5 separate regions of the Homo sapiens genome follow, and regions 2, 3, 4 and 5 are each reported to be linked to region 1. The links are microRNA targets in miRTarBase. Many come from high-throughput screens and were not tested one by one. Region 1 holds a microRNA gene; each other region holds the end of a gene's coding sequence. Distances are from middle to middle.
Evidence for each region. The annotated mature microRNA hsa-miR-331-3p reads GCCCCUGGGCCUAUCCUAGAA and lies in region 1 at 1,482-1,502, opposite strand. An mRNA with a match to its seed (bases 2 to 7 or 8) in the 3' UTR can be bound and repressed. Matches are read on the target gene's strand: a 7mer-m8 pairs with bases 2 to 8, a 7mer-A1 pairs with bases 2 to 7 and ends in A, and an 8mer does both.

Region 1 (5,103 bases):
CTTTGCCCATCCCCCCAAAGACTATAATCTCAAGTCTTCAGGTAGGGTAGGAAATGTACTACCCTAATATATAAAACACAATTAATCAAAAAGTAAAAATGAAAATACCTCTGAAAGAATATTCTCAAATGATATTTTTTAAAAATCACAGTTTAACACTCAACTAAGTGTCTGGATTGAATGTAGACTTCAAAAACTTACTACGTAAACAAGCTATAACTTTTTAACTCTTCACAAATTCCTATTTTCAGTGTTCATAATGAACAAGGTTTAAAAAAGTGGAAAGGCTCCCAAAATACTGAGAACATATATGTATATAAATCAAGGATGGGTTCACTCATTTCAAGCTATGTCAAGAAGTCTATGGGATGAAGCATGTCTGTTGTGATGGATATAGTACAGAACTAACTCCACGGCTGAGTTCTTCAGAGTGAGCCTCTGTAGGCTCATAGTCCTATTTTAAAGGAATAACCTATTGACCCAATTTGCTGGTGTTATAAGCTTGGAGGAATAGCACAATTTCAAGTTCCTTTCACAGGTGGAGTTTCTGATTAGTCTGTGGTTATTTGAAACATGGTCTACACCTACTGCAGAAGCCAGCATTATTAAAAGCATACATTTTCATTGTGCACCATAACTTTTGGATTTGGGGTCGTTTCATACTTTTTCAGAAATACTGTCTTCTAAATTAAACAGAAAAACATCTATGTGAATATAGCGATGCAACAGTTGTGATATGAGACCATGTGATGGATCAACTAGGTCAGAATATTTGTAAAATCCAGAGTGGCAAGGAATAAAAATAGAGAAACTTACTAAAAATCTTCTACAAAATAGTGATGTAAAATGTGACGTATTAACCAATTTCTACTGTGTCATTCTAGCTTGTTTTCATTAACCATAGCAGAACTTCTAAAAGTGAGCTCTAAAATGTGGCAAATTTGATAATAAATTAAGGAAAAAGTCATTAGTCTCCAAAAACAAGAATTGAAAATCATTTGGCACTGAAGCCAGATGGCAAAGACTAAATGCTCTTCAGAAATTATGAACAATTATTCAGTTACATGAGACTGACATAACAGTGTCAAGTAGAAAAACATTTAAGAAAACAGAAACCATTAAATTTGGGGGAGAGTTTAATTTGGAGGAAGAAGTTGATTTTGGGGTTTTTTAGGGCTAAGTTGCTTCAGCTAAAAATATAGAACTGATAATAAACAAGAATAGCTCTCTTCACTGGCAATAATATCTGTATGGAATTTCTATTGCGAGAAATTACTATAATGCCAAAGGCTGGGAAGACTTTGTTACCCAATGTCATCCCTCTAATTTTAGAAGGATTAACCAACCAATTTTTGCTAAAATGTAGGCACACATACCAAAAAATGTGAATCTTGGTGAATATAGGATGTCTGGTAGGCCTCAGGTTATCTTCAGTCTTCACACTCTTGATGTTCCAGGAATGATGCGCGAGCTTAGGTTGGTTCTAGGATAGGCCCAGGGGCCTGGTTTGATCTGGGATCCCTGGGACCATACCTAGAACAAACCCAAACAAAACCAAACTCCTTGGGAGTGCTTTCAGCTCAGGTAGACTTCTGGGCTTTTCACCCATATGGACCTCCACGACTGTACCAGGACCATATACCAACCTTTAAGGGATGGGAGTGACATTTCTGGAGCCTTCTGTACGTTGTCAGCTGATAGTACTGTGCCTGAGTAAGCATTATTTAAGTCATGGTATGAACAGAAGGTAACAGATTGGTGCAATAAAAGTGCAGAAAATACTTTGATTTAGAAATGAAGTTAATTTCCTTAAGAATTTACTTAAGGAAGGGGAAAAGGATATGCTTTGTTTAGGATATTATAAAAGAGTAAACTTATAAAAGACATGCTTTAGTTTTAGAAAAATTCTTCAATAATATTCATTTGTAGGTAGCTAAGCTTTAGGAAATGATATAAAACTGAAAAACATAAAGCCTAAAACAGTAAAATTATCCTTTAAGAAAATCTTAGGATATAAATAGGAGAGGAAATATATATATCCATAGCCATATCTCACAGAATATACTGATTTTAAAGGATAATGCAGTCAAGAGAATATGCAGCTTAAATACTGTACTATTGCAATAATATGTTGCTAAATGAAGTTCAATACATAGAGATAAAACTAATTTCATTGCTGACAAGCTAAAATACATTAAAATATATACCATAAAAAATACTATATGCACTTTAATTTATCACACATTTCATTTTCCTTCTTTTTTTTTTTTTTTTTTTTTTTGAGACAGAGTTTCACTCTTGTTGCCCAGGCTGGAGTGCATTGGCACAATCTCGGCTCACCAAAACCTCCGACTCCCAGGTTCAAGCGATTCTCCTGCCTCAGCCTCCTGAGTAGCTGGGATTACAGGCATGAACCACCATATCCGGCTAATTTTGTATTTTTAGTAGAGACGGGGTTTCTCCATGTTGGTCAGGCGGTTCTTGAACTCCCGACCTCAGGTGATCCGCCCACCTGGGCCTCCCAAACTGCTGGGATTACAGGTGTGAACCACCACGCCCAGCCCATTTTCATTTATTTATTTTTGAGACAAGGTCTCTCGTTCTGTTGCCCAGGCTGGAGTGCAGTGGTGCAATCATGGCTCACTGCAGCTGTGGCCTCCTGGGCTCAAGTGATCCTCCTGCCTCAGCCTACTGAGCAGCTGGGACTACAGGTGTGTGCCACCACATCCAGCTAATTTTTAAGTTTTTCTGTAGAGACCAAGTCTTGCTGTTTCTTGCCTAAGCTGGTCTTGAACTCCTGGCCTCAAGAGATCCTCCTGCCTCAGCCTCTCAAAGTGCTAGGATTGTAGGTGTGAGCCACTACGTCCTAGCTTATCACACATTTTAGAATATCTATAAAATCAGTTCCTCCTTATTCATGCTAAACTTTTACATGTGTGAATCCTTGAATCAATTAATCCTCTTTTTGGTTTACAGCAATTACACTGAATAGAATCACTTTCCTCTCACAACTACACTCAGAAGTTTTCTTCTTTTATCACTGACCTGGCTTTGGTATCTTGACTATCTCTTCTATAATGGCAGTCTCAACTCAAGAAACTGGTTTGGACCACCTATCTTTTTTTTTTTTTTTTGAGATGAAGTCTTACTCTGTCACCCAGGCTGGAGTGCAATGGCGCAATCTCGGCTCACTGTAACCTCCGCCTCCCGGGTTCAAGTGATTCTCCTGCCTCAGCCTACTGAGTAGCTAGAATTATAGGCAGGTACCACCACCACGCCCGGCTAATTTTTGTATTTTTAGTAGAGACGGGGTTTCACCATGTTGGTCAGGCTGGTCTCGAACTCCTGACCTCGTGATCCACCTGCCTCGGCCTCCCAAAGTGCTGGGATTACAGGCGTGAGCCACCGCGCCCAGCCTGGACCACTTATCTTTTATGATTATTATACCACAGATCCCTTCCATTAGCATGGATAACTGAATGCCGACTATGAGGCATGGTCATAAAATAAACAGACTGATTTGACAGTTACTTTGTAATGAAAACATGAGTCAATATATGGTTACTAAAATAATCAGCATGTTGCTAAAAATAAGTTGTTTGATGCTAGGATATCCATTTCTATACAGATTTGACTTTTACTTGTAAATATTATAGTGTGCAAATTTTATTTTTCATTCAAGAGAGAAAAGTGATCCTGCTTAATTATTAAATATTAAATTACAATTTAATCATGCCCAGTACAGAATGACAGTGGGAATTTAGTCATTCAAATATCTGCCAATATCATTAGATCTAACACTGATAACTTTTGGTAAGCTTTTAACGTCCGCTTACTATAGCTGAATAAAAATAAAGACCCTGTTTTTAAAACTAGCATAATCAAAAAATAAATTCTTTGTGGTATAATTGCCTATAGTCTATAAATTTTATTACTTCTCAGGTCTCTGTGACATTAATAGTGAATGTTTTCTTATTTTTCAGGGCTTAATCTATTTTCATGTCTTGGAAATGAAGATACATTTCTCTCTTAAAAAAAAAAAAAAAAAAAAAAAAAAAGCCGGCTGGGCGCTGTGGCTCATGCCTGTAATCCCAGCACTTTGGGAGGCCAAGGACGGCAGATCACAAGGTCAGGAGATCGAGACCATCCTGGCTAACACGGTGAAAACCCATCTCTACTAAAAATACAAAAAAATAGCCGGAGTGGTGGCGGGCGCCTGTAGTCCCAGCTACTCCGGAGGCTGAGGCAGAAGAATGGCGTGAACTTGGGAGGCGGACCTTGCAGTGAGCCGAGATTGCACCACTGCACTCCAGCCTCGGCAACAGAGTGAGACTCTGTCTCAAACAAAACAAAACAACAACAAAAAAAAAGCCAAAGAAATTCTTAACAGCATGTAGTCTCCAATTCAAATAGAAAATACTATAGAAAATGCTAACTTGAGTGGACCAGTTTTAATCAGCGCCAAATAATTCTAGTATAGAACTAACTTTAGAGAAAGTAAAGTATGTAAACAAAATAGTTCCTTTTGTACCATAACAACTTTTCTATTTTGAGAGCAGGTATCTAATTCGGTAGCTTCACTTATTTTAACGATAGCAATGAAACAGGTAGTAAAGTAACAGATGTCACAAAATCCATGCATTTAAGCATAATCCACTTCCTCAAGTCTTCACTTTGAGTTTATTTATTCTTACTTTACACAGAAGTCTAATAAACTTAGTTTGTCTGGTCTCCAAAATGAAAGCAGATCAGAAGGCACATTATGAAGGTGGAGAAGGGCTACTGCTACAGGCACACTTAAGCAAGCAGTAATAGAAATGGAAGAATCAGAACGACTGTTAAAGACATGAAAACTAAAACGAGTACAGCAGAATGGAGCCATTTAGTACAGGGACAAACAGCTCTCAATGTCTGATTAGTCTATCAGATTATAATAAGTGATGTTAATGCTGATCATTTTGATACCAAACAAATTAAAATACATTCATATATTATTTAAGACAGTAATGCATATCAATTTTATGAAGATTTCCTTCAGAGATTATTCCAAAAAATTTTAGGGCTGAAAGAGGTTCAAGCTCTGCAGGAAACTGGGATATCTAG
Region 2 (5,103 bases), 41 Mb from region 1:
GACTTTTTTTTTTTTTAACAAATCCCCCAAATGTTTATTTTGGGCTCCTGCCCATCCAGATAAATCAAGCTAACAGATTAGGAAGTTCATAAAATTGTATTCTTAGGTAATGACATCCAGAGAGGTAATAAATATTCCCTCTGCTCTGGTGGCCGCTGGAGTTCTGGTGTTCAGGGATCTTCCATCTCTCATTCCAAGCCTGAGAGGGGTCTCTTGGAAGGGGAACATTTAAATTAAAATTAGCTCTCCATAGGTGCAGTGCCAGATAGAAGCTGTGGAAAACCCGGAGCGGTGGTTTTGTGAGTGCAATAGCTTGCTCCCCCAGGACTGGGCAAAAGGCAGAGAAAAAGATGGTACAGTTGCTCCAGCGCACTGCTCCTCCCCGTCATAGCACCCTTGATCTTAAGGGCCCCTTTCAGAGTCAGTCTCCCCTAATCCTAGAAAAGCAGAGAAGGACACCCTGGCTCCAAGCTCCCAGCAAACCTTTTAATTGTTTTCACTTCCCTACAACTCCCCCCAACACACACACACACACACACACACACACACACACACACACCCCTAGCTGTGGGAAGCTGTCTCTGGATTTCAATCTGCCAAGTCCAAGCAGAAAGAAAACTGAAGCACAGATTGCAGAGAAAACTTTGTAGGAAACTTCACACAAACAGCAGCAAGAGACCCTCGGAAAGGCAAAGTGCCCCAGTCCTTTTCCCTCAGTCTCACTTTCTCAGACTCTCTCTTTTTTGAGCCAAATTTCTTTACTCCCCAGGTACACAGACTCAGCACAGAACCGTCTTTTTCTCCAAGCAGAACCCCTCCGCTTACAATTGGATTTCCCGCCTTCCCTGCCTAAGACCGGGAGTTGAGACAAAAATTGAGTGGCAAATAAGAGTTTAAACTTTTGTGCTCCTCACCCCCAGAGCAGACCGAGTGCTAACTACTTACGTGTCAATGGGATCTTTGGCCTGTGGGGATCTCCTGGCGCTTGGAGAGAAGGAACCCTGGAAGATTGGTGTCGACATTTCACCCGTCTTCTTTTTACTTAGCCATTGAAGAGAGAGGGATACAATGCACTTACAGGCATTCATGCGCCTTGCCTCTCCCATTACTCTGGGCAAGAAATCCCCAGTCCTACAAAAGCAGTGGCATCCTATCTGGAGACCAGGGCTGAGCAAGGGCTGGCTTGGGAGGGTCAGAGATGGGGGTGGGGGAGAGGTCAGAGGCGCTGCCGAATATAAAGGCAATGGGAGAGAAAATGCTGTGTCCTCCCCGTGAACCTGGGCTGTGTCCTCCCCCCAGCCTTTCCCCACTGCTCAACCCAACTTAAATAAAAGCCCAGCCCTCAGCTTCCCAGCGAGGCTGTAGCAGCATCAGGCAGAGCAGCAGGGACCAAGACTGCTGGAGCTTGGGGCCCTCGGCCCAGACTGGCCCCCCACATCCCAACCCTGCCATGCCATTCTGGGTTGCCAAGTCCAAGGCAAAGGAGAGCTTTGGGGAAAGGGGAGAAAATGGAGCCCACTGGAGGGAAGGCCAGAGGCCAAAATCTTCAAACTCAAATGTAAGGGATTTTAGTTTGGGTTCATTTGTCAAGAATTATGGATTTCTGATGTTTCCCCTTTTCAGACCAGAAAGAACAGAAGGAGACACATGCAGAATGACCATGTATGTGAGGGAAGAGGAAGGAGAAGAAACAGAAGACATAAAGAAGGGGAAATAAAATAAGTGTTCTGACCCTTTTATGCTGCTTTTCCTGAACTAGAGTGTCCCTTCTGCAATTTCAGGGAGAAACTTAGGAAATAAAATGTAGTAATTTTCCCCCTCCTCACTCTCATCTCTTCCACTTTCAGGAGGAGAGGGATAAACTCCCTGAAAGCCACGCGAGCAAACTTAGGAAAGAACCATGGATCTCAATTTACCCCTTCCCTGCTTTCCATCTTAGCTCCTTTACAGGCTTGAAAAGACACCCTGGTGCCCTTAGACCTTCCTTCCCTTTTCCTAAGCACAGCTAGAACCCCCTTTTTCTGTTCCAAGGGCAATCGCCTCAAGACGATAGGGGCTACAGTCAGATTTGGCCCCTAATTCACTTGATTACATAAAAAACTCCAGATAATTGTTGGCCTGCCTCCTCATACTGTAGGCAGCATGTTTTGTTGTCTCCAGGGTACCACTGAGGGAGGAAAAGTAGACCTAAAGGACTAAGAGACTCCCCCCAACACACACACGTGTGAGGGCATGCATACACACACACACACACACACACACCAAGTAACAACCAGCAAGTGGTTCAAAAGGAAATAAATTCAAAGCACACCAATGTGATTTGTACAACTTAGTCCTGCTGTTGCCTTTCACTCCAGAATTTGGGGATAGGGGGAAGGGGTATCCCTGGCTTCCCTGCATACCCTAGATCTCTTCTCCCTCTGTCTTCTACTTCTAATTGCCTTTCTTCCTGAAATATGGATAAATCGTCCGAGAAGAAGGTCACCAACAGCCCTCCTCCCACCTTCTCCTAACAAACAAGCAAAAAATTAAGCAGGCCTTGCTAGGGCCTGGATCTCAGGACCAGAATTATTTGGGAGCCTTTGGCTTGAATGTATTCAGGTAATCCAGGCAAGATTTTTTGTTTCTTTTTTAGCCCCAAGGAAACAAATTTATTTAATTAATTTATTTCTTTACAGCCAGAGAAACTTGTTCAGGCTATCCCCATACGCTGCCAGGACCTGGGAGGTTATAGGAAGAGAGGGTGGTCCTTGACTCTCCCTAAGTCTCTTCGCAACACCTGGCAGGTCCATAATAAAAGTTAGAGAATAAAAAGGTAAAAGTCTTTTATTATCTCCAGGCATCAGCCTTTGAGGCCTATCCATAACAAGGGTACCTCCCAGGCCTCTGGCCAGTCTTTTTTCCAAGCCTAAACAAACAGAGAAGGCATCCTGACAGGTGACTTTGCTGCTTCAGAGTCACCAGCTCAAAACCTTCCTTCTTTTAAGAACTCAAATGTTGAGGGGATGTCTTCCTTAATCCCTCATCCCAAAAGAGCCCTAAAAGATGAAAGAAAACTATTCTCCTTCCCACTCCCTAAACTTGCCCCCTTGTCTACAAAGTAGGCAGGCCTACTCAGCACAGAGGAGGGAGAAGGGAAGAGAGAGAAAAGACAAAAAGAAGAAACTGTACCTAACTATAGAAAAGTGAGACACTCCCCACCCTCAGCTCCACTGAAGTGCCCCCAGAGGAGTCTGGTCTCTCTGCAGACTCAGGGGGAAGGAAGGGGACTGGAGAAATCAGCCTTAATCTTCCACATCCCCTCTTCTGAAGATCCCATACCCCAACCCCCTTGCTTGTTCTTCTAAGGACATTGGAAGACTAATGGAGAGCTAAGATTTGTGTGTTTGTTTAAAGTAAACTTAGGCAACTATAGAGAAGATGGGATGTTACCAGGCCAGAGAGGGAGGGGAATAAAAAGAAACCATCAGACATTGACGTAAAACTAATTCACATCCACTGGTTTATTATTGATCACGGGGCATTTCACATCGACACTAAAATTCTTTATTGCAAGTTTTACAATAATCAAGTAAATTCAGTCCAAAAACACAATAACCACGATAGGGGTGGGGAGAGATTCTACCTATAGACTGCCTCTCTGAACTGAAAGTTCATTTTGATTTTCTTTTGGCTCCTCAAACTGAACAGCTCTGAGAGGCTCTCCAGATGCATTTAGCTTTGTCTGCTGTCTTCGCCCCCTCTCCTCCCACACCCCCCCCCAACAATAATACAAAAGAACTTCATAGCTTTGTTCTCCTTAAAATGACTTCCCCCTCACTAACCTCCCCTGGTGCATTTTCAATGCAAAAGGCCTAAGGAAAGAGGGGGGGAAGGAGGAGGAGGAGAAGGATGAGAATTGGCTTTAAAATTTCTTTCCTTTTTTCTTTTCCTCATTTCCCCTGAAATTCACCCAAGCCAGACCATCACACCTTGCAATATATAATTTTTGCAGCTTTTTTTCTTAAAAAATAAATAACCCCCCAAAATGGCCTTTTAAAAAAAAACACCCAGCAGGTACCATGCTAAGACAACATCACATGCTTAAAAGGGTCCTTAACAGTGGGAGGGAGAGGAGGGCAGGGGGCTTGTTTGTTTATCTGTTTTGTCTGTTTGGAACTGACAAGGGACAAGGTGAGAGGAAGAGAGAAAAGAACCTATATATATATATATATATATATATATTAAATTCTATAAATAAGAGTCAATTTGTGTGTGAGGGGAGGGTGGGGGCATGGGGTGGGGGCAGGGGTGTGAGTTATGTTTTATAACCTGGTAATGTCCTCTGCCCGTTGCTGCTCCGGCGGCGTGGCGCTCTGGGAGTGGTCTTCAGAAGTACCCGGGGTAGCTGCCGAAAGGGTGCTGGGCGCAGCGCCGGCCGGGGGTGCTGACCTGACTTTGGTGTTGGGGAGTCGGTGGTCCTTCTTCCATTTCATGCGACGGTTTTGGAACCAGATTTTGATCTGCCTCTCAGAGAGGCACAGCGAGTGGGCGATCTCGATCCTTCTCCTTCGGGTCAGGTAGCGGTTGTAATGAAACTCTTTCTCTAATTCCAGGACTTGCTGCCGGGTATAGGCTGTCCTCGAGCGCTTGGGTTCCCCTCCGTTATAATTGGGGTTCACTGGGGGGAGGGGAAAAGCAAATAGTGGGGTTCAGAGGCAGCAGGCTCCCCGCCCCCCACCCTCACCCCATCCTCAGCTCTGAGAAACAGGAGGAGGGAGTGGTGGAAATAAAGTCATCAAGCTTAAATGGGTTATAAAGAAGTTGAAGGAAGCTGAAGACTTTGTAGTGTAATAAGAGGGGAATCCTCATTGTAACGACACTGAATTATTTATGCGCCCTTAGAAAGCGAGCATAGTTTTCACACATACATAACAGATCGTAGCACATGGCTCGGACTGCCCAGAGTAGCTAAGCCATAAAATTTATGGGGGATGTAATTACCCATTCTCGCTCGTAAATCCAGTTCAATTGTGCTAACCCAGAGTCGCTCCTGGAGAGAGAGGGGGAAGGAGAGAAAGGAGGACGGGGGCCAGAGGGGGCCGAGGAGGGTGGGGAGCGCTA
Region 3 (5,103 bases), not on the chromosome of region 1:
CTTCTGTCAGGCAACTCCAGTTAGGCCCTAAAGAAGGGTTCAGTGGGCAAATCCAGTTCACAGCTCCACTTTCAGACAAGGTGGAGTTGGGTGTCATAGGAGATTCTGTACACATGGAAGGGTTGCCAGGGAGCAGCACATCCATCAGGCACATCAGCATTGGGCCTCAGAGGCATCAGACCACCCAGCAGATAGTTTACCATGGGCTGGTTCCCCAACTGGGGGAATCTGGTGACTCAGAGAGCACTGTGCACGGAGAGGGCTCAGCAGATGTGCACCAGGCCACTCACAGTCATACCTCGGGTAGACAAACCGTTATGACTGAAAAGAGCACCTTCCAAAGTGTCGTTTCTGAATCTCCCCAGGAGGATAGTGCAGAGGACACATCAGGGGCAGAAATGACATCGGGTGTTAGCAGATCCTTTAGGCACATTCGACTAGGTCCTACAGAAACGGAAACCTCTGAACACATTGCCATCCGTGGACCCGTGTCCAGAACATTTGTGCTTGCTGGTTCAGCGGACTCCCCTGAGCTAGGCAAGTTAGCAGACAGCAGCAGAACGCTAAGGCACATTGCACCAGGGCCCAAAGAAACTTCGTTTACCTTTCAGATGGATGTGAGTAACGTAGAGGCGATCCGCAGCCGGACACAGGAAGCGGGAGCTCTCGGTGTGTCTGACCGTGGTTCCTGGAGAGACGCGGACAGTAGGAATGACCAGGCAGTTGGTGTGAGCTTTAAGGCCTCTGCTGGGGAAGGAGACCAGGCCCACAGAGAACAGGGCAAGGAGCAGGCCATGTTTGATAAGAAGGTGCAGCTCCAGAGAATGGTAGACCAAAGGTCGGTGATTTCAGATGAAAAGAAAGTTGCCCTCCTCTATCTAGACAATGAGGAGGAGGAGAATGATGGGCATTGGTTTTAATAAGCAGAAACATTTTGTTTTAATGGCAGCCTGTTGGCGACGTGCCAACATCCAAAGGCCTTAACTTATTTTAAGAGGCCGAGGGAGTCTATGAAAATCTCCCCTTTTTTACTTTTTTAAAGAGTACTCCCGGCATGGTCAATTTCCTTTATAGTTAATCCGTAAAGGTTTCCAGTTAATTCATGCCTTAAAAGGCACTGCAATTTTATTTTTGAGTTGGGACTTTTACAAAACACTTTTTTCCCTGGAGTCTTCTCTCCACTTCTGGAGATGAATTTCTATGTTTTGCACCTGGTCACAGACATGGCTTGCATCTGTTTGAAACTACAATTAATTATAGATGTCAAAACATTAACCAGATTAAAGTAATATATTTAAGAGTAAATTTTGCTTGCATGTGCTAATATGAAATAACAGACTAACATTTTAGGGGAAAAATAAATACAATTTAGACTCTAAAAAGTCTTTTCAAAAAGAAATGGGAAATAGGCAGACTGTTTATGTTAAAAAAATTCTTGCTAAATGATTTCATCTTTAGGAAAAAATTACTTGCCATATAGAGCTAAATTCATCTTAAGACTTGAATGAATTGCTTTCTATGTACAGAACTTTAAACAATATAGTATTTATGGCGAGGACAGCTGTAGTCTGTTGTGATATTTCACATTCTATTTGCACAGGTTCCCTGGCACTGGTAGGGTAGATGATTATTGGGAATCGCTTACAGTACCATTTCATTTTTTGGCACTAGGTCATTAAGTAGCACACAGTCTGAATGCCCTTTTCTGGAGTGGCCAGTTCCTATCAGACTGTGCAGACTTGCGCTTCTCTGCACCTTATCCCTTAGCACCCAAACATTTAATTTCACTGGTGGGAGGTAGACCTTGAAGACAATGAAGAGAATGCCGATACTCAGACTGCAGCTGGACCGGCAAGCTGGCTGTGTACAGGAAAATTGGAAGCACACAGTGGACTGTGCCTCTTAAAGATGCCTTTCCCAACCCTCCATTCATGGGATGCAGGTCTTTCTGAGCTCAAGGGTGAAAGATGAATACAATAACAACCATGAACCCACCTCACGGAAGCTTTTTTTGCACTTTGAACAGAAGTCATTGCAGTTGGGGTGTTTTGTCCAGGGAAACAGTTTATTAAATAGAAGGATGTTTTGGGGAAGGAACTGGATATCTCTCCTGCAGCCCAGCACCGAGATACCCAGGACGGGCCTGGGGGGCGAGAAAGGCCCCCATGCTCATGGGCCGCGGAGTGTGGACCTGTAGATAGGCACCACCGAGTTTAAGATACTGGGATGAGCATGCTTCATTGGATTCATTTTATTTTACACGTCAGTATTGTTTTAAAGTTTCTGTCTGTAAAGTGTAGCATCATATATAAAAAGAGTTTCGCTAGCAGCGCATTTTTTTTAGTTCAGGCTAGCTTCTTTCACATAATGCTGTCTCAGCTGTATTTCCAGTAACACAGCATCATCGCACTGACTGTGGCGCACTGGGGAATAACAGTCTGAGCTAGCACCACCCTCAGCCAGGCTACAACGACAGCACTGGAGGGTCTTCCCTCTCAGATTCACCTGGAGGCCCTCAGACCCCCAGGGTGCACGTCTCCCCAGGTCCTGGGAGTGGCTACCGCAGGTAGTTTCTGGAGAGCACGTTTTCTTCATTGATAAGTGGAGGAGAAATGCAGCACAGCTTTCAAGATACTATTTTAAAAACACCATGAATCAGATAGGGAAAGAAAGTTGATTGGAATAGCAAGTTTAAACCTTTGTTGTCCATCTGCCAAATGAACTAGTGATTGTCAGACTGGTATGGAGGTGACTGCTTTGTAAGGTTTTGTCGTTTCTAATACAGACAGAGATGTGCTGATTTTGTTTTAGCTGTAACAGGTAATGGTTTTTGGATAGATGATTGACTGGTGAGAATTTGGTCAAGGTGACAGCCTCCTGTCTGATGACAGGACAGACTGGTGGTGAGGAGTCTAAGTGGGCTCAGTTTGATGTCAGTGTCTGGGCTCATGACTTGTAAATGGAAGCTGATGTGAACAGGTAATTAATATTATGACCCACTTCTATTTACTTTGGGAAATATCTTGGATCTTAATTATCATCTGCAAGTTTCAAGAAGTATTCTGCCAAAAGTATTTACAAGTATGGACTCATGAGCTATTGTTGGTTGCTAAATGTGAATCACGCGGGAGTGAGTGTGCCCTTCACACTGTGACATTGTGACATTGTGACAAGCTCCATGTCCTTTAAAATCAGTCACTCTGCACACAAGAGAAATCAACTTCGTGGTTGGATGGGGCCGGAACACAACCAGTCTTTTTGTATTTATTGTTACTGAGACAAAACAGTACTCACTGAGTGTTTTTCAGTTTCCTACTGGTGGTTTTGATATTGTTTGTTTAAGATGTATATTTAGAATGACATCATCTAAGAAGCTGATTTTGCTAAACTCCTGTTCCCTACAATGGGAAATGTCACAAGAATGTGCAAAAATAAAAATCTGAGGAAAAAACCCACATTGTTCCTAAAGAGAATGAATATTTTCAGTAGATTTTGATGTTTCCTTTAAACTCTAAGTAAAGAATCTGTGTGTTTACATGCATGTTTTTAGGGTAGCAGAGAATTACTGGGCAGAATATATATGAAAAGTTCCAGTTCTCTAATTCCTCACCTGAATCGGAACTCAATATTGGGAGCACAGAGCTAGAAAGCCTGGCAGACAGAGCATAAGCCAATTGGCTTGTAATCAAATATACACTGGACAATTTGTGGTAAAAATGTCATCATCACAGCCTGAATGACTAGTGGCAGTAGGACACCACCAACCATCCCATTTGGGATGGAGAGGTTTCTTGGGATGTGGTACTTTGAGTGCTAAAACCAGGACTGTCCTGGGCATACCAGGACAGTTGGTTACCTTATAAGTGCAAATTGGAGGGTTAACCCTAAGGCATGGCCATTTCTTAGGGGCTTGAAAAAACTGAGGTAGTTTGAGACAAAGGAATAGCTAGATATCTTTACCCGTTTGTAACCTTGTAGCCCTTTACCAAAAATAGAAAAACACAAGTAGCTATAGTCTTCCTCTCGTTGAAGTCAACAGAATTAACAGATGGGAGACATTGGAGGGAACATTCCTAAATTCATTGCTTCCTGGGGTGGGGTGGGGTGGGGGCGCTAAATTTTAAAAATGTGTTTTAGTTTTTGTGATTCCAAGCTACGCTTCAAGAAGTACAGAAAGGAAGAAGTAACATCAGAATTCACATTTATTTCAAAAACTCGGCATGGACTCTCAGTTCAGGCTGCTGTAACAGAAAGCCGTAGCCTGAAAGGCTTAAACAACAAACATTTATTTCTTACAGTTCTGGAAGCTGGGAAGTCTCAAGGTGCCAACAGTTTCATTTCCTGGTGAGGGCTCTCTTCCGGGCCTGCAGACGGCTGTCTTCTCACTGTGTCCTCACATGGTGGAGAGAGAGATCATCTCTCTGGTGTCTCTCCTTATAAAGCACTAATCCCATTCATCAGGGCTCCACCCTCATAACCTAATCACCTCTCCAAGACCCCACCCCCAATACCATCCCTTTGGGGATTAGGGCTTCAACGTGAATTGGGAGCATATGAACATTCACCCCTTAGCTGACTCCACCCATGTCAACTAGATAGGACACACGGTGAGTAGTGACATCTTACACGTTTTTAGCACACTGCTGATGTCCGACAGGCCTGGGTCTGGGACCAGTGTGTACCAGCAAGCATGGTCTGTGGGGTCAGCTGTCACGCTCCTGAGGAAGACAATGGTCCCTGCTTCTCTCCACCCTGTCGTGGCTCTACTGAGTTTATTTTCCCCATCAATACTGGAGGTGGTGCCCTGCACAAATGGCCCCAGGGTGGTTTTGATGTCCCACTGGGGGCTGGAGGGGAGGGCCCTGTGCTGCAATCTGCTGTCATAGCACCAGCCTGCAGCCTCATGGCCACAGTCTGTGGGACCAGGGGAGGGAGGGGAAGGGACATCACTGCCCACACCTGCACCCCTACCCCTGGGTGTTCCATCCACCTCGATCTGGCACTGGATCTCCTCGTTGACATCGTGGAGGAAGGCACTCAAAGCTTCCTGTTCGACTTTGCCATCCTCACACGACTATGGCCTCCTTCCAGGGGGCTGAAGAC
Region 4 (5,103 bases), not on the chromosome of region 1:
CTCCCAAAGCTCCAGGAACTGGCAGAGGCCGGGGACGCCCCAAAGGGAGCGGCACCACGAGACCCAAGGCGGCCACGTCAGAGGGTGTGCAGGTGAAAAGGGTCCTGGAGAAAAGTCCTGGGAAGCTCCTTGTCAAGATGCCTTTTCAAACTTCGCCAGGGGGCAAGGCTGAGGGGGGTGGGGCCACCACATCCACCCAGGTCATGGTGATCAAACGCCCCGGCAGGAAGCGAAAAGCTGAGGCCGACCCTCAGGCCATTCCCAAGAAACGGGGCCGAAAGCCGGGGAGTGTGGTGGCAGCCGCTGCCGCCGAGGCCAAAAAGAAAGCCGTGAAGGAGTCTTCTATCCGATCTGTGCAGGAGACCGTACTCCCCATCAAGAAGCGCAAGACCCGGGAGACGGTCAGCATCGAGGTCAAGGAAGTGGTGAAGCCCCTGCTGGTGTCCACCCTCGGTGAGAAGAGCGGGAAAGGACTGAAGACCTGTAAGAGCCCTGGGCGGAAAAGCAAGGAGAGCAGCCCCAAGGGGCGCAGCAGCAGCGCCTCCTCACCCCCCAAGAAGGAGCACCACCACCATCACCACCACTCAGAGTCCCCAAAGGCCCCCGTGCCACTGCTCCCACCCCTGCCCCCACCTCCACCTGAGCCCGAGAGCTCCGAGGACCCCACCAGCCCCCCTGAGCCCCAGGACTTGAGCAGCAGCGTCTGCAAAGAGGAGAAGATGCCCAGAGGAGGCTCACTGGAGAGCGACGGCTGCCCCAAGGAGCCAGCTAAGACTCAGCCCGCGGTTGCCACCGCCGCCACGGCCGCAGAAAAGTACAAACACCGAGGGGAGGGAGAGCGCAAAGACATTGTTTCATCCTCCATGCCAAGGCCAAACAGAGAGGAGCCTGTGGACAGCCGGACGCCCGTGACCGAGAGAGTTAGCTGACTTTACACGGAGCGGATTGCAAAGCAAACCAACAAGAATAAAGGCAGCTGTTGTCTCTTCTCCTTATGGGTAGGGCTCTGACAAAGCTTCCCGATTAACTGAAATAAAAAATATTTTTTTTTCTTTCAGTAAACTTAGAGTTTCGTGGCTTCAGGGTGGGAGTAGTTGGAGCATTGGGGATGTTTTTCTTACCGACAAGCACAGTCAGGTTGAAGACCTAACCAGGGCCAGAAGTAGCTTTGCACTTTTCTAAACTAGGCTCCTTCAACAAGGCTTGCTGCAGATACTACTGACCAGACAAGCTGTTGACCAGGCACCTCCCCTCCCGCCCAAACCTTTCCCCCATGTGGTCGTTAGAGACAGAGCGACAGAGCAGTTGAGAGGACACTCCCGTTTTCGGTGCCATCAGTGCCCCGTCTACAGCTCCCCCAGCTCCCCCCACCTCCCCCACTCCCAACCACGTTGGGACAGGGAGGTGTGAGGCAGGAGAGACAGTTGGATTCTTTAGAGAAGATGGATATGACCAGTGGCTATGGCCTGTGCGATCCCACCCGTGGTGGCTCAAGTCTGGCCCCACACCAGCCCCAATCCAAAACTGGCAAGGACGCTTCACAGGACAGGAAAGTGGCACCTGTCTGCTCCAGCTCTGGCATGGCTAGGAGGGGGGAGTCCCTTGAACTACTGGGTGTAGACTGGCCTGAACCACAGGAGAGGATGGCCCAGGGTGAGGTGGCATGGTCCATTCTCAAGGGACGTCCTCCAACGGGTGGCGCTAGAGGCCATGGAGGCAGTAGGACAAGGTGCAGGCAGGCTGGCCTGGGGTCAGGCCGGGCAGAGCACAGCGGGGTGAGAGGGATTCCTAATCACTCAGAGCAGTCTGTGACTTAGTGGACAGGGGAGGGGGCAAAGGGGGAGGAGAAGAAAATGTTCTTCCAGTTACTTTCCAATTCTCCTTTAGGGACAGCTTAGAATTATTTGCACTATTGAGTCTTCATGTTCCCACTTCAAAACAAACAGATGCTCTGAGAGCAAACTGGCTTGAATTGGTGACATTTAGTCCCTCAAGCCACCAGATGTGACAGTGTTGAGAACTACCTGGATTTGTATATATACCTGCGCTTGTTTTAAAGTGGGCTCAGCACATAGGGTTCCCACGAAGCTCCGAAACTCTAAGTGTTTGCTGCAATTTTATAAGGACTTCCTGATTGGTTTCTCTTCTCCCCTTCCATTTCTGCCTTTTGTTCATTTCATCCTTTCACTTCTTTCCCTTCCTCCATCCTCCTCCTTCCTAGTTCATCCCTTCTCTTCCAGGCAGCCGCGGTGCCCAACCACACTTGTCGGCTCCAGTCCCCAGAACTCTGCCTGCCCTTTGTCCTCCTGCTGCCAGTACCAGCCCCACCCTGTTTTGAGCCCTGAGGAGGCCTTGGGCTCTGCTGAGTCCGACCTGGCCTGTCTGTGAAGAGCAAGAGAGCAGCAAGGTCTTGCTCTCCTAGGTAGCCCCCTCTTCCCTGGTAAGAAAAAGCAAAAGGCATTTCCCACCCTGAACAACGAGCCTTTTCACCCTTCTACTCTAGAGAAGTGGACTGGAGGAGCTGGGCCCGATTTGGTAGTTGAGGAAAGCACAGAGGCCTCCTGTGGCCTGCCAGTCATCGAGTGGCCCAACAGGGGCTCCATGCCAGCCGACCTTGACCTCACTCAGAAGTCCAGAGTCTAGCGTAGTGCAGCAGGGCAGTAGCGGTACCAATGCAGAACTCCCAAGACCCGAGCTGGGACCAGTACCTGGGTCCCCAGCCCTTCCTCTGCTCCCCCTTTTCCCTCGGAGTTCTTCTTGAATGGCAATGTTTTGCTTTTGCTCGATGCAGACAGGGGGCCAGAACACCACACATTTCACTGTCTGTCTGGTCCATAGCTGTGGTGTAGGGGCTTAGAGGCATGGGCTTGCTGTGGGTTTTTAATTGATCAGTTTTCATGTGGGATCCCATCTTTTTAACCTCTGTTCAGGAAGTCCTTATCTAGCTGCATATCTTCATCATATTGGTATATCCTTTTCTGTGTTTACAGAGATGTCTCTTATATCTAAATCTGTCCAACTGAGAAGTACCTTATCAAAGTAGCAAATGAGACAGCAGTCTTATGCTTCCAGAAACACCCACAGGCATGTCCCATGTGAGCTGCTGCCATGAACTGTCAAGTGTGTGTTGTCTTGTGTATTTCAGTTATTGTCCCTGGCTTCCTTACTATGGTGTAATCATGAAGGAGTGAAACATCATAGAAACTGTCTAGCACTTCCTTGCCAGTCTTTAGTGATCAGGAACCATAGTTGACAGTTCCAATCAGTAGCTTAAGAAAAAACCGTGTTTGTCTCTTCTGGAATGGTTAGAAGTGAGGGAGTTTGCCCCGTTCTGTTTGTAGAGTCTCATAGTTGGACTTTCTAGCATATATGTGTCCATTTCCTTATGCTGTAAAAGCAAGTCCTGCAACCAAACTCCCATCAGCCCAATCCCTGATCCCTGATCCCTTCCACCTGCTCTGCTGATGACCCCCCCAGCTTCACTTCTGACTCTTCCCCAGGAAGGGAAGGGGGGTCAGAAGAGAGGGTGAGTCCTCCAGAACTCTTCCTCCAAGGACAGAAGGCTCCTGCCCCCATAGTGGCCTCGAACTCCTGGCACTACCAAAGGACACTTATCCACGAGAGCGCAGCATCCGACCAGGTTGTCACTGAGAAGATGTTTATTTTGGTCAGTTGGGTTTTTATGTATTATACTTAGTCAAATGTAATGTGGCTTCTGGAATCATTGTCCAGAGCTGCTTCCCCGTCACCTGGGCGTCATCTGGTCCTGGTAAGAGGAGTGCGTGGCCCACCAGGCCCCCCTGTCACCCATGACAGTTCATTCAGGGCCGATGGGGCAGTCGTGGTTGGGAACACAGCATTTCAAGCGTCACTTTATTTCATTCGGGCCCCACCTGCAGCTCCCTCAAAGAGGCAGTTGCCCAGCCTCTTTCCCTTCCAGTTTATTCCAGAGCTGCCAGTGGGGCCTGAGGCTCCTTAGGGTTTTCTCTCTATTTCCCCCTTTCTTCCTCATTCCCTCGTCTTTCCCAAAGGCATCACGAGTCAGTCGCCTTTCAGCAGGCAGCCTTGGCGGTTTATCGCCCTGGCAGGCAGGGGCCCTGCAGCTCTCATGCTGCCCCTGCCTTGGGGTCAGGTTGACAGGAGGTTGGAGGGAAAGCCTTAAGCTGCAGGATTCTCACCAGCTGTGTCCGGCCCAGTTTTGGGGTGTGACCTCAATTTCAATTTTGTCTGTACTTGAACATTATGAAGATGGGGGCCTCTTTCAGTGAATTTGTGAACAGCAGAATTGACCGACAGCTTTCCAGTACCCATGGGGCTAGGTCATTAAGGCCACATCCACAGTCTCCCCCACCCTTGTTCCAGTTGTTAGTTACTACCTCCTCTCCTGACAATACTGTATGTCGTCGAGCTCCCCCCAGGTCTACCCCTCCCGGCCCTGCCTGCTGGTGGGCTTGTCATAGCCAGTGGGATTGCCGGTCTTGACAGCTCAGTGAGCTGGAGATACTTGGTCACAGCCAGGCGCTAGCACAGCTCCCTTCTGTTGATGCTGTATTCCCATATCAAAAGACACAGGGGACACCCAGAAACGCCACATCCCCCAATCCATCAGTGCCAAACTAGCCAACGGCCCCAGCTTCTCAGCTCGCTGGATGGCGGAAGCTGCTACTCGTGAGCGCCAGTGCGGGTGCAGACAATCTTCTGTTGGGTGGCATCATTCCAGGCCCGAAGCATGAACAGTGCACCTGGGACAGGGAGCAGCCCCAAATTGTCACCTGCTTCTCTGCCCAGCTTTTCATTGCTGTGACAGTGATGGCGAAAGAGGGTAATAACCAGACACAAACTGCCAAGTTGGGTGGAGAAAGGAGTTTCTTTAGCTGACAGAATCTCTGAATTTTAAATCACTTAGTAAGCGGCTCAAGCCCAGGAGGGAGCAGAGGGATACGAGCGGAGTCCCCTGCGCGGGACCATCTGGAATTGGTTTAGCCCAAGTGGAGCCTGACAGCCAGAACTCTGTGTCCCCCGTCTAACCACAGCTCCTTTTCCAGAGCATTCCAGTCAGGCTCTCTGGGCTGACTGGGCCAGGGGAGGTTACAGGTACCAGTT
Region 5 (5,103 bases), not on the chromosome of region 1:
GACATGCCTTCCCTGTATGAGACCATACAGTCAGAAAGTGGCCATCATGGTCTGACCTGGCCACTGTGCCCACAGAGCACCTGGGACATTGAGGCGAGCCACAGCAGGATGCTGCGTGGTGGAGGCAACCCTTGGGGTGTTCGTCGGAAGACCCCCTTGATGTGCCTTGTTCTTTAGCCCACTGTTGCCACAGATACCCTCAGTGCATTCTACGCCAAACCTACTGCATCTCAGCAGGTTTGCGGATAGGCTGGAGGGATAACAAGACACTGGATGCATTGAGTTCTGAAAGCATTTCAGGATAAATAAACTAAATACTGTGCATTTGCCCAGTGTCATGCCTGGCACAGAGCAGGTCTGCTTGGCCAAGGCACCTTCCTCTCTGCAATGATGAACCACTCCTTCCCTTCCTTACCCTTGTAAACATGGCTGTGAGGAATGGAAGAGCAGCAACTCACAGCCTGTTCCACAAGGCAGGAGTCTTACATAATGATGTTCCTGGGGAAAAGGATGACAGCTGACGGGGCACCTTCCCTGCTCAAATTCAACTTTATCACCATTGCCTCTTGGGGCCCCGCCCCTGAAGTCCAAAGTCTCACAACTAATTCCCCCAAAGCTGAGTCATTCATCCTTAGCAGATGCAGGCAGAGAATCCGCTGGGCTGGGAATGCACCCTGAGCCTTTTGTGCTCCAGGTCCAGAGGTTTCTGGGCACACCACTGTCCTCCCATCTGCTATCACCAGCTATATCATCAGAATGCTGTTGGCCGGGTGTGGTGGCTCACGCCTGTAATCCCAGAACTTTGGGAGGCCGAGGCGGGTGGATTACCCGAGGTCAGGAGTTCATCCTGGCCAACATGGTGAAATCCCATCTCCACAAAGATACAAAAATTAGCCAGGCATGATGGTGGGTGCCTGTAATCCCAGCTACTCAGGAGGCTGAGGCGGGAGAATCGCTTGAACCCAGGAGGCGGAGGTTGTACTGGGCCGAGATGGCGCCACTGCACTCTAGCCTGGGTGACAGAACAAGACTCCATCTCAAAAAAAAAAAAAAAAAAAAGAAAGAAAAAAAAAAAGAATGCCCTTGTTTTCAAAAACCCTCCATCTTCTGTATCCTTTGAATTTTTAATATGTGACTATTACATTTTTTTAAAAAATCAAATTTTCAGCCCCCATTGCATATTTTGGTAACAACCCTCTGGTCTTTTCACCCTCAAATGTGCAGGGATCCCTCCCACCCCAGGGAATTTGCACATGCTGTCTCCCCTGCTAGGATTGCTGTTCCCTCCCACCCTTCCCATCTCAGCATAAACCTCACTTTCTCAAGGAAGGCAGCATTCTCTCCAACTGGGTGAGGGCCCCTTATAGCCCTCCAGTACCCTGAACTCCCAACATGACTATTGAGCAGTCTGCATTGGCTGACCATCTCTGCTCCTTGCCTCATAGACTGTGCCTTGTCCATCTGATTCCAGACCATAGCACAGTCCACACAGCCAGGCACCCATTCAGGTATACATGTGGGCAAAACTGTGCCAGCCCAGAGTGGAGAGGCCACTGCATTCTCCTGACCTTCCTGCTTCAGCCCAGGGCGTCACCAGCCTGAAAACCATCCAAGCTTCTCTGCTGTTTAGTGAAGCCTTAGGCTTCCACGCAGCATGTGCCACACCTCCTTCCTCCCTTCCAGGCCCACATGCCCTCTGTGCTGTTTGGCCCTGGACAGCCCTAGGTTCATTTGCCCATAGCACACATACCCTCATCCAAGGCCTGCCCCAGTCCTGATTTGCACATTTGTGCAAAGGGCACAGGCTTTGGCCAGACTAAGTCCAAGAGGCCAACCCTGAGTGCCTGTTTGTTCACACGTAAATGGGCACATGGTACCTGCCTCCCAGGTGGGGTGTTGAACGAGCCATTTATACTTACTTTCTCTCTGTAGTCTCAGGACACGAAGATGGACCTTCCTGTTCTTTATTTTTTAAAGATAGAGTCTCACGGCCAGGCATGGTGGCTCACGCCTGTAATCCCAGCACTTTGGGAGGCCGAGGTGGGTGGATCACCTGAGGTCAGAAGTTCAAGACCAGCCTGACCAACATGGTGAAACTCTGTCTCTACTAAAAATATAAAAAACTTAGCCAGGCGTGGTGGCGGCCACCTGTAATCCCAGCTACTCAGGAGGTTGAGGCGGGAAGAATTGCTTGAACCCAGGAGGCAGAGGTTGCAGTGAGCTGAGATTGCACCACCACACTCCAGCCTGGGCAACAAAGTGAGACTCTGTCTCAAAAAAAAAGAGAGAGAGTGTCTCAGTATGTTGCCCAGGATGGAGTGCAGTTGCGTGATCATACAGCCTCGAACTTCTGGGCTCAAGCAATCCTCCCATTCTTTCCAATGCCCTGGCCCCAGAGCGCCCACATGGTGCCTAACCCCACAGCAAAAGCCCCCGTGGTACCAGCTACTCCACCAGGGTGGACAGGCCAGAACCCAAATCTTGCAAAGAACCTCATTCACCAGGCAACTTCTAAGCCTCATCTTCCCCACCTAAAACATAGAAATAGCTTCCCCCAGGGATGCCGTTAGGAGGAAGGAATGTACACTTTGAACAAACAGCCTCCATATCTTTACCCAAGCTCCTCTGCTCCGGGCCCAGACCCTGCTATCCCCAGGCACGAATACAGCATAAGGCTGGCTCCATGTTCCTCTACCCCACCCCCCAAAGAAGGAAATCACTGGGGAAACCAATCTCCTCTCCATCAGGGTGGCTCTGGGATACAAGCTCTTGGTAGGGTGTGCTTGGAAGTGACAGGGTCAGAGAGATAAACATAGTGGAGACAGACTGTGCATCACTTTAGAACACAGCTTGGCTAAAACATCCAGAGCACTCACTGTCCCCAGGACCAGCCTCAGCACTCCATGAAGCCAGGTGGGAAGGCCAACCTAGGGCAAGGACCAGGCCTCAGCACTGCAGGCACTCTCTGCCCTGTCTTGTCTTCCAAGAGGTGGCAGCGATGCCCACTGATAGGGTCTGTGCAGTTGACAGATGTCTCCCAGCAGATGCTCAAATGGTTGCTCTTTATCTCCAGTTCCATTAACTCTTTGTCCTTCTGAATACTGCTAACCACCAAACTGCAAGAATATCGTCTGCAGCTCCTTAGCAGCTCTAGTTCACACCTGCCCAGAAAGTACCACTGTCCTGCCCCCATCATACACACTGGCTTCGTGGAAATCCTTGGGTGTTAACAGAAGAGGAGCAGGGATCATGGAGGCCCCAAATCTCGGGTCCTGCTAGCTTCAGTCCTACCATGACCAAAGACACAGACTCCTTCGTCTCTGTATAAGCTTTTGCCGAGAAAAAACTTGGTTCTTTCTAAAATACTCAGGCACTCTCCTAGTTTCTCCCCACTCTCCTGCTGCCCCAACCTCCTCATGCCCCCAGCATGGCCTTGTGACGCCTGGTAAGCAGGTGACATGCAATCTAGGACCCCAAGCCAGCAGAGAAGCCCAGCCTTCAGGCTGAGAAGGCAGCTGGAGAGCTCAGGCCAGGGCATAAGGGACAGTACACATGTGTGTATGTCACACCACCGCTTATGCACATAACACACAGACACAGCTCACACATCAACAGTTGTTCAGAAAGGGACCAGCAGATAGCTGCCCCGGCTCCTCTAAGGAAGAGCAGGCAGCTTCCCCCCGAATCTACATGTGCGTGTGCTCGGGGAGAGGAAGGCTGGCGGTCAGGAAGGCCCATCTCCCAGCCTGATCCCAGGCAGCAGGGCTGCAGGAGCTGGGCAGGAAGGCTCTGGGCCGGCCATAGCCACCTGCCAGCAAGGGCAGGCTTCTCTTCTCATGGCTGGGGCAGCTCGGCACAGCTGACCTCTGCTGGCCAAGTGAAGCACTGCATGCAGCCACAGAGCCAGGCACAGCTGTCTTCCGAAGTTTCCCGACTCCTGATGTTTTGGGGATTCAAATAGTCCTTTTCATATGCTGGAGGCACAAACTGGGGCAGCTAAAATTTTTATTCTGTTGTCAAGGGGCAAGATGCCAGCTTGGAAGTGCCAAGGAGCTAAAGGGCCCAGCACTGCCGGCCCCAGAACTGTCTGTTCAGGCTGTGCAGTAAGCACCAGAGCCTCGCCTGTCCACGAAGGGTGTAAGCCTGTGCTCCACAATGTGCTCAGCTCCAGAGAGGCCCAACAACCTCAGGAGGGCTTGGCTGTGGGTCTGAATTTCTTTCCTTTGTGCTTGAAGCTGCGCAGTGGGTTCTGGGACTTTGCTCTCTAAGGAGGCAAAGTCACAGGTTAGTTGGGGGAATCAGGCCGACAGACAATCCACCCACCCACCCACCCAACTGAGAAAGACACAAAGGGAGCCGTGCCGGCAACTGGCCAACACGACCAGAAGGTGCTGCAGATAAGGAAATGGGGAAAGGCAGCTGGGGAAAGAAAAGCAGGGCCTGCAGGCGGCTGCAAAAGTACCCCTATCCCACACCAGATTTTTGGGGCCCGGTTCTAGGGTGCCCCCTCTTCCCCTCCCTAGGGCACCCTCTCTTCCCCTCCCTAGGGCAAGGCGCCTCCACATTCTGGTGATGACAAAAGAGCAGGTTGGGAGGAGTCCTGGGGCTGTCCGCAGTCCCCAGGAGCCGTACCTTGGCCTTCCTACAAGAGGAAGACAGCTTCTTCCGCTTCTTGTGAGGGCGCACCAGGCCACGGAGAGCAGGAGGAACTGGAAGAGATGCTTGCCTGAGCAGTGGGCTCACCGCTACTGCTCCCATCCCTGCCCTCCCGCTGATTCTGCAGCAAATTCTCCAATTCTGACCCAACTGGCAGCCTATGACATACATCTATTCACTACCACATCTGCACAGGGCCAGGAGAATGTGAGCACCTTAGACTTCCACTATTTAAATCACTCTCCTATATTGTTTAGATTTGTTACAACAAACATGTAACAAGAAAGAAAAAGACAGACATCCTTAAAGAAAGAAAATGCAGCTGAAATAAAAGTCAACAGGTAGTTTCTTCACCTGTGGCCCATTACTACCGATACAGGGGGCCCCGCATCCCAGCTGCACCTGATCTTGGCTCTATCTTCACCTCGCCCACCCCATGGACTCCCC

Region 2: the mRNA of HOXC4 is a reported target of hsa-miR-331-3p. Seed matches in the 3' UTR shown: 7mer-A1 at 3,938-3,944 and 8mer at 3,826-3,833.
Region 3: miRTarBase lists SYNM as a target of hsa-miR-331-3p. The part of its 3' UTR that is shown has no 7-base or 8-base seed match.
Region 4: miRTarBase lists MECP2 as a target of hsa-miR-331-3p. Seed matches in the 3' UTR shown: 7mer-A1 at 1,822-1,828, 7mer-A1 at 4,570-4,576 and 8mer at 5,079-5,086.
Region 5: the mRNA of DDX56 is a reported target of hsa-miR-331-3p. The part of its 3' UTR that is shown has no 7-base or 8-base seed match.

The regions. Positions count from the first base shown.
Region 1 is chr12:95,304,879-95,309,981 of GRCh38, reverse strand. It overlaps MIR331 (microRNA 331), which reads right to left and starts at 1,562; the gene lies at 1,469-1,562. MIR3685 (microRNA 3685) reads right to left here and starts at 59; the gene lies at 1-59.
Region 2 is chr12:54,054,407-54,059,509 of GRCh38, reverse strand. It overlaps HOXC4 (homeobox C4), which reads right to left. Exons shown (of 2, transcript NM_153633.3): 2 at 3,480-4,660. The coding sequence ends at 4,305. FLJ12825 (a long non-coding RNA gene) reads right to left here and starts at 1,256. Exons shown (of 2, transcript NR_026655.1): 1 at 946-1,256. RefSeq lists an enhancer at 1,358-1,859.
Region 3 is chr15:99,132,139-99,137,241 of GRCh38, forward strand. SYNM (synemin) reads left to right here. Exons shown (of 4, transcript NM_145728.3): 4 at 1-3,455. The coding sequence ends at 920. It overlaps TTC23 (tetratricopeptide repeat domain 23), which reads right to left. Exons shown (of 14, transcript NM_001288615.3): 14 at 4,185-5,103. Among named protein-coding and RNA genes, the nearest start is that of TTC23-AS1, 4.6 kb to the right of the region's middle. RefSeq lists an enhancer at 4,626-5,103.
Region 4 is chrX:154,026,193-154,031,295 of GRCh38, reverse strand. MECP2 (methyl-CpG binding protein 2) reads left to right here. Exons shown (of 3, transcript NM_001110792.2): 3 at 1-5,103. The coding sequence ends at 929. Among named protein-coding and RNA genes, the nearest start is that of MIR718, 8.8 kb to the right of the region's middle.
Region 5 is chr7:44,561,816-44,566,918 of GRCh38, forward strand. DDX56 (DEAD-box helicase 56) reads right to left here. Exons shown (of 14, transcript NM_019082.4): 13 at 4,633-4,709; 14 at 3,989-4,264. The coding sequence ends at 4,187. Among named protein-coding and RNA genes, the nearest start is that of DDX56, 9.5 kb to the right of the region's middle. RefSeq lists enhancers at 1-436, 3,849-4,348 and a silencer at 3,784-3,995.